Linked DNA regions of Homo sapiens. The protein of the gene in region 2 interacts with the protein of the main gene of each other region in a biochemical or structural test. Each region holds a gene or a part of one and is shown on either strand. Other genes may lie near its edges.

The links.
Region 1: the proteins of LHX1 (region 2) and OTX2 form a complex in vitro, tested with the Homo sapiens proteins (one study listed by BioGRID).

Annotation. Positions count from the first base shown.
Region 1 is NC_000014.9:56,803,957-56,807,758, forward strand, and holds part of OTX2 (homeobox protein OTX2), read right to left. Parts: intron 1,712-3,802; exon of another isoform or gene 1,620-1,711; 5' UTR 1,501-1,619; coding exon 1,404-1,500; intron 408-1,403; coding exon 232-407; intron 1-231. UniProt on the Homo sapiens protein: Transcription factor probably involved in the development of the brain and the sense organs. Can bind to the bicoid/BCD target sequence (BTS): 5'-TCTAATCCC-3'.
Region 2 is NC_000017.11:36,935,795-36,940,376, forward strand, and holds the start of LHX1 (LIM/homeobox protein Lhx1), read left to right. Parts: upstream 1-1,680; 5' UTR 1,681-2,403; coding exon 2,404-2,573; intron 2,574-4,495; coding exon 4,496-4,582. UniProt on the Homo sapiens protein: Potential transcription factor. May play a role in early mesoderm formation and later in lateral mesoderm differentiation and neurogenesis.

The DNA.
Region 1 (3,802 bases), on a different chromosome or scaffold from region 2:
TGGGTCTCTCTCCACCAGCAACCCGGGCCTTGAAGACCCTTGCTTACGGGATTAAGTGGTGACGGGCAGGCAAAAAAGGGCAGAAGGAGAATAGTTTCCTGGCCCCTTAGTGAGTGAAGGAGAATTTCAAGCCTTCCTTCAGTCCTCTGAAAGACCTGGGGCTCTCCACAGTCCCATACTCGGGAAGGGTGGCATGATCAGGAAGGATGGTTCTGCCTGCATCTGCCCTACCTGCACCCTCGACTCGGGCAAGTTGATTTTCAGTGCCACCTCCTCTCGCATGAAGATGTCTGGGTACCGGGTCTTGGCAAACAGTGCTTCCAGCACATCTAGCTGCGCCCGAGTGAACGTCGTCCTCTCCCGGCGCTGTTTCCGGGGGGTGGCTGCGGGACAAGAAGCCCAGGGCCCTTTAGGGTGGGGGAGCAGTTTCTCAGTCATAGGCGTTTCCGCGGGTTCTCCGACGCCCCTGCCCTCCACCCCGCAGCAGTCCCCCGTTCCTCACAGCCCTTCAGCCGGGAGCCTACCAATGCTCTCCCCACCGTCTCCCCAGCCTTGCTCCCCGGGGACCCAGGACACACGCTGCTTCTTTCCCTACTCTTCTTGGTGTTGAGATTGCTCCAATCAGAGCATCACTTGGAAAGTTAACAAATGAAACATTTTTTAAAAGACACACAAAAAAGTTCTCCAAGATCAACCCCCAAACCACAACACAAAAAGGCTATTCCAAGAAGTCAAAGGATCTCCGAGGACAGACTGGCAGCTCGAATTGATGGGGGAAATCTGGATCCTGTTCCCATGGTTTTTAGCACACCATGGGCCTTTGTTCCTCCATCTTTAAAATGGGGACATAGTTCATACTCCTGGGAGGATTTTTAAACATATCTGATTGGAAAGGAAAGCACCCGCATTTGGAGGAAGTCACGCCTCTTGGGATTAAAGCAGGCTCTGGAGGTCATAGGGGAAGGCCTGGGCATGGAGGGAACAACTGCGAAGCCCGAGAGTGCTAAGGACTTACGGAGGGAAAACTCAGCTTCTCCAAGAGGACACTTCTGAGGAATTGGTCATTGAGATATGGGTAGGGGTCTTTTGCCCAAATGACAAGGACAGTAACCTTCCTCATCCCACTCTGATGCCAATCCTTATTTACTCGAATTAAGAATAAAGTGATGTGATTGTAACGGTTGCAGACCCACCTACTCACTTTTCCCAACCCCTGTTCTCTGCTTGGTCAGTAAATGCCCTGGGACTGCTTCCTCAGAAGGCAAACCTAGAGGAGACCAAGCCTGAAGCTGGGTGGGGACAGTGTGACTGCCAACCCCCGTGTTCCATGGGAACAGGGTGTTGCATCCCCGGAGGGTGGGCATGGGGAAGAGGGGTGCGGGAGTGCAGCAGGGCTCACTTACCCGGGTAGCCCACGGAGGGGTGCAGCAAGTCCATACCCGAAGTGGTCAGACTCAGCCCATTGACTGCGTAAGGCGGTTGCTTAAGATAAGACATCATGCTAAGGTTGTTTGGAGGTGCAAAGTCGGCCCAAATCGGGGGTACCCAGCTGGAAGATCTTGATGCGCCCGGGGTGGACAGGTTCAGAGTCCTTGGTGGGTGGGTTTGGAGCAGTGGAACTAAGGGCAAAGCAAACAAACAAACAGAGGGGCTGGTTTACTGCTTCGGAGGCAGCAGCTCTTCCACGTTCCAGCACTAACTTAAAAAGAGCACGGACTAGGCGAGGCAGAGGCTTTTAAAGGACTTGCAGACACTCCCCCCACCCCCATCCCCACCCCCACCCCCAGCTGCTCTGGAACTAGAGGGGATGGAAGGAGACCAGATAAACCTGTCTTCCCCACCCCCACCCTAAACTTAAAAAAAAAAAAAAAGTACCCGAAGAAAGCAATTACAATCTGCCTTCCCCAAGAACAAAAACCCGTGCCTTCAAATGCACACATTGCATTCCTATCCCTACATTTGCATAGGACTCATTGGCTGGCACTAGCTAATTGTCTCAAACAAAACTTGATTGGGGCCATTTGCAGAGACAAAGAACTCTTTGGCTAAATAAATAATGCTGATAACAAAGCCCATTGGTGAGAAACAAAGAAACAATTCAAGAAATCTACCTCTCCCCAGACTGTTGCCTTTCCATGGCAGAGATTTTAATTATCTTAGCTTTTTACCACTTTCAACTGCTGCGAACCTAAAATGTCAGTGCGTTTAACATCTAAAATACCAACTCACTAAACCACAAACTTGGAAAAACCGCTCAACCACTATTATTCCACATTTGAAGTCATTTCCGGTAATCATTTTCACCTAATTAGTAGTCTGGGTAATTAGATTTCGAGGTAAGTAACAGATTTATTAGGGTTTTGGAGAATCTTGATTATATGTGTCTAAGGAACGAAAGCTAAACAAACAAGTATTTAACTTTTAATAGACACCCATCAAATATTTAAGCATATTCCAAAAAAGTCTTCAAGATTGGCACAGGGCTTGCCAGAAATTGTGAAGTAAAGTTAGAATCCCACCAATCAGATAATGACGGGACCCCACATTTGTAGTGCAAGCTGCTTCCATGTTGATTTTGATGTGTGGAGGCTGCAGATCCTGCGGGAGGCAAATTTTCAGACATTTGGGTCCTCGGCAGCTGCAGCAGAGTTTCCTGTTAACTCTAACTGCCTTTTGCACATTTTAGTTTTGAAGAAAGTAGATACACAAACACCCAAAGTTGTGAAACTAGTAGAATTTCTCCCTACCTTTCAAGTTTCCTACAATCCTATAAGAAAAAGAGCTCAAGGGGGAAAAGAAAGGAAGAAAAAGAAAAGTTATTTACTTTCTTCAGCTGAGCTCCCCGCCTCCACCCCAGCAAAGAGATTCAAAGTAGATGTTAATATAGACTGGCAGTTTGCAAGTCTGGCCTTTATTTTCCTAAAATGTGGCACTTATATGCAAGGATCTCTACTTTGAAACTTTGACACCATGAGAGATTGCTTCAAAATGGCGGATACAAGATAAAGGTCTCACTGACTTTAAAGGACTCCGGGTTTTCATATTTACGTTGCTTAAGACAGCAAGGCACAAAAGTCCATAAATGAAACTTAGTAACTGCAACTTCTTTCTGATTTAAATTCAGAGCACAAAAGTCATGCTTTTCTACCCTAAGATCTAACTTAATATAATTTTATAAATGTCTTTCTTGGAGGAGTTTGTATTATCCTCAGTACAACTAATTTAGTTGCCCCTACAATACAGACTTTATGTTTTTGTATTGTCTTTTCTTTTCAAAATGCTGTTCTTTGGAGGCTGCGAAAATAAACAAAAATCTCCAGCTTAGAGGCTGTTTAAACACATATGCGACAGCTTTAAAATACAGTTGTATATGTGTTTAAACAGCCTCTAAACTGGAGATTGGAGATTTTTTGTTTAATCGTACTACCTTGCAAAATTCTGAACTACAGTGCTATAGAGAATCGTAAAATCATATCAGATGTACCCTTGAGAAATATGGAAATGTTCTTACATGTAGAGCTCTCACCCAATTAGAAATGCCTGACACATCATACAATAAAGTAGCACATTCCAACATAAAAAGCCAGTAACACACAGAAAGCACCAGGGCCGAGATCCTTCCAGGGGCTCCTTTGCCCTTACCATTGCAAAATGGCTAAAATTCTCAAAATAGACTATTTTCACTTTTGCTCCTGGATCCACCTTTAAAAGGAAAAGAGGAAAACCAAAACCCAAAACTAAGAGATTCTCTCCACAACCGGCCTAGGTATGCACTCTGCATAGAAGGCATGGGCCCTTCAAT
Region 2 (4,582 bases):
GGAGGGTGTGGTTTGCTGTTGTCTGGGGAAGCCGGTGCCAACCCGAAGCCTGGACAGGGGAGGACTGGAATCCCGGCACACGCTGCCCATGCACTGCACGCCCATCTACTGCAGCCTCTTCGTGGCGTCCCGGCACCCCCCCCTCCTCCTTCCCTCTTCCCAACGCCACGACCACCACCCCCAGCCGCCGCTGGAGCCCCCGGTTTCCCGCCTAGTCGTTTGTTTTTGTACGTAAAAGGTGTCTCCGGATCACAGTTTTCTCACAACTTTCTCGCCAGGGTTGCAACTCCTCACCCGAGGCGCTTCCCGGTCCACTCCTTCCCCCGCGCCGGCGCCGCGCCTCCGGTCTCCCCGCCCCCATCAGGAAACCGCCCGAATCAACTTTGCAAGAGTGCTCTGCGGGAGACAGACACTCAGCTCGCCCAGGACCCGGACCCTGTGGACTTTGGATGGATTGGGGGAGGGGGCACAGAAAGAGGGACGGGAGGAGGGAGATTCTGCTGCTAAGAGCCTCCTCCCCCTCCAAAGATGTGCGCTGCGCTTGGGACAAACTTCCAGCTCAAGAAAGTACGGGGGGACAATGGCAACAGCCGCTGAATTGCAAAGCCCAGCAGTGCAGGGGAGCCGCCTGGGATTCCGGACCCGGCTGCACCCCAACCTTCCACAAGGCTCGGTCTTGGACTACCCCCACTCTACAGCAGAACTCTGGCCTCCGCCTGCGCCTATTCCCGCTCTCTCTCTGTCCCTCCCATCGAAACCCACGCCTTACCGGAGCAGGAGGGGGCCCAGGCACGGTGCTGCCCGCCGTCCGCGCCGCGCGGGGCCGCGGGTGCCGCCGCCACTGATCCTCTAAACGCGGTCTCCCCGCACTCTCCCGGGCCGGGGGATGCAGAATGGTTTACAGAGGGACCGCGAGGCGCTGATTGGTCGCAGGCCGCAGTGACGTCAGCGGGCGCTGCATTAAGGCGAGGGGGCTTCCAGAGCTCAGCCAACAGCCAGGAGCAGTGACCAAGCCGCCGGAGCTGGGGAGAGACGCACCGGGGCGGCGACTGGGCCAGGAGACCAGGGACTGAGGGACGCGCCCGGGGAGGGCCAGCAACGAGCCGCGGCCCGGGCGGCGACAGCGGCGGTCCGCGCCGAGCCGTTCCAGCCGCCGGCCTACTGTAGCCGCTGCGCCAGGACATTTTTTTTTAAAGCTCTCCAAGCTGCCCCCCTCCTCCCCGACTCCTCCCGCTGCAAAAGAAAAACAAAAAAAAAAAAAGGAAGGAGGCTAGAAAGGAAACCCAGATTTGCCACCACAACGAAAAAAAGAAGGGGAAAAGGAAAAGGAGAGAAAGTCGAGCGACTGTGGGGTTAGACGGAGGCAGACAGAGCGTGGGCCGAGCGATGCGGGGCTGTGCGCCCAGGCGGCCGCGAGTTGTGACTGGAGCCACGATGCACGGCCAGGCGCGGTGAGAAGCCAGCCCGTAGTGCCTCCCGAAGGAGCCCGGGCGCAGGGAGGGTCGCCCTGAGGACACGGAGGCCGCCAGGCAGGCCAAGGGCCGAGGTGACTGGGCTGGGGCGGTAGGGAAGGAGCGAGTGCGCCTGGCTGCCTCCGCACGGAGTTGTCCCTCTCTGTTTTCGATTGACACAAACACTTCTCCAAAAGCGGGGAAACCTAAGCAACAACAGCAATCAACACCAAGATCTTCCTCCTACCCTCCCCTCTTTCCCTTCTCCCGCGGTCGGCCCTCGCCCCCTCCCCCAGGCCCAGCGCGGGCGCTCGGCGCGTCCAGACCCGCGGCGCGATGCCGGCAGTTTAGGATCCAAAGCTTCTCTGCTCCTTTTGTTCTTTCCTTCCCTTTTTTAAAAAAAGAGGGGGGAAATCCCAGTGGTGGGCAGCCTGGCACGCACACAGTCGCCCTCATACCCCGACAAAAGCAGATGCACTTTGACTTCTGACAGCTCTACCTCAAGCCCCGGAGAACTCAGCGGCGCTTTCCTCGCAACCCGAGCTCGGCGAGTCGTCGTCTTCTTCTTCTCCGTTTTTATTTATTTATTTCCGTTCCCGCCGCCGTTCTCGCTGACCTTCACTCCTCCGCGGGCTCTGAGCAGAAGGGTCGCATTCTCTCCCGCCTGAGACTTCTTTTCCTCGCCCCGGGAGCTCAGGCGGCGCCGCTCCAGCCCGGGGCCCCGGGACTCCCCGGCTGCACACTTCACTGAGACGCCCCCCCAGGCCCCGATCAGCCTCGTTTCCTCCACCCTACTTTGATTTCCTGGTGCGAGTTTTGGCTTGCACGGCCGAGTGTGTGTCCTCTTTTTGGAGAGACTGGGGAGCTCGTGCCGATTGTCTTCAGGAGTCATCCCCTGGGCTCTACTTTGCCCCTCTCTCTCTCTGGGCCTCATCAGACCAAACCAAAGACCATGGTTCACTGTGCCGGCTGCAAAAGGCCCATCCTGGACCGCTTTCTCTTGAACGTGCTGGACAGGGCCTGGCACGTCAAGTGCGTCCAGTGCTGTGAATGTAAATGCAACCTGACCGAGAAGTGCTTCTCCAGGGAAGGCAAACTCTACTGCAAGAACGACTTCTTCCGGTGAGTACTTTCCTCCCACGCCTCTGCTGCTACCTCCCCGCGGGCCCTTCCCGGCCAGCTTCGGATCAGAGGTTAGCGTGGCCTCGCTGCCCAGTTAGGAACTGCTTCTAGAGAGGGCAGCCAAGTCCCGCGGGCGCCCGCCTCTCCGCCAGCTGGCGCGCTGGGAGCCCGGGACGCGGCCCTGCTTGCATCCTGGAAACTATGGGTCTGGGTTTGGCTGCATGTGCCTGGGAAGAAAGGGTCTGAGCCTGACTCGGCCCAGAAGCCCCTTCAAGCTTGGAAGAGACAGGGCAGCCTCGGGCGTTGTAGCCCGGACTGCTGTCTTTCCCGGAGCCAAGCTCTGCAGCAACTGCATTCTCCAGGCCTTCGGGGTTGTTTGCCCTCCAGGCAGAGCCCAGGCTCCCTCCCGGCCACTACCTTTTCCGACCCCGAGCGGTCTTGGCGGTAAGCTCCGAGCCTTTTGCGTAGAGTGTCTGGGCCAACTGCCCTGTCAGCGGCAGGAAAGAACTCGGCCTTAAAGCCGATCCTGCACGCCCGGGGGTCTTCCCCAAACCCGGACATGCCTCCGAGTGCAGACCTGGACAAACTGCTGCACTGTAGCCTGCGAAGTGCCCGGAGCTTTTTCCTGCTTCCCTGGCTGCCGAAGTTGTCTGGTGGTTCGGCTTCAGCCCCAGGTGACTCCGACTCCCACGGGCTCCGCTCAGTAGTCCTCCTAGGAAACTGCCAGCCACAGCCAGCAACCTCCTTGATGAAACCTGGGGGAAAGCCGAGACCTCCAGCTTGCTGGTGGGGAGACTTCTCCCTACCCCCCTTATTCGTTTAGCATTTTAATTATATTATCGTACACTCACAATTTTGCCGCTCCATTCACACAAACACACAAGTCAACAGAGAAGAACGGGCACAAATGCGAATTGTAATTCCACCCTACGGATGTGAAATATCGCAATTTACTCGGCTGACTTGGTCTCTGCTTTTCTGAGTTTGTGGTCATAGTTCAAACCAGGGAGCAGGAGGAAGAGGGATTCAAAGCCACTCAGAGGGCCAAGACGCGCTGTCCCCAGTGCCGCTCCAGGACTCGTGGCTGGGGTTGGGTTGCGTGGAACCATGAAGCAAAGCTCCGTGCTCGCTGGTATTTCGGGAGAACGCGCAGGCTGAGCCTCTGAGCCTCCGCGGGCTGCCCGGTTTTCCTCAAGGACTGGATCATAGCGGGAGGGTGGCAAACCGTACTCGTACCCGCTGCCAGTGGGTCCCTGAGCCTGGCTTCCACAACCCGCGGCAGAGCGCCCAGAGCCAGCTCCCGCAGCTCCCGCTTTTGCCAACCTGTCCCGCTTTAGGCAAGAGCGTGGCGGCGGCCCCGCTAAGGCTACGGAGGGGGGCTCTCCGCGGCTATGTTTGTTTACCAACAGCGGGGCTAGACATCGCCAACCCCATGCCTATGTGCGGGTCCTTTTGCGATGAAGGAGAGAAAAGCGGCGCTCCGCGCACGTTTATATAGAGTTCTAATTGTAATTCGACTTTTCTGAATCTAATCGGAAAATAAGTGCCCCGTTCCCCCCGCCCACACAGGTCACTGCCTTGCCACCTTCTTTAGACGATGCATCTTTCCTCTGGGATAACGCTGGGAGTGAGGCTGGGGCTTGGCGGGTAGCTTGGGCCCCTGGCTCTAACCGCGTGTATCCCCTCCCTAACTCTTCCCTGGTGCCGCGCTCTCTCTCCTGCTGCCTCCTCACCTGCTTAACCGGAATTCTGCCTCTCTTTATCTCTCTCTTCCCTTCTTTCTGTGCTCCATTCCTCCTCTCCTACTTCCTCCACTTTTTACATCTTCCCTCTTTCTCGCTGTCATCTTTCTCTCCGCCTGTCTCCCCTTGCCCCTGGCTGACCCATCCCCGCCCCCGCCCCCCACCCCCACCCCCCCGCAGGTGTTTCGGTACCAAATGCGCAGGCTGCGCTCAGGGCATCTCCCCTAGCGACCTGGTGCGGAGAGCGCGGAGCAAAGTGTTTCACCT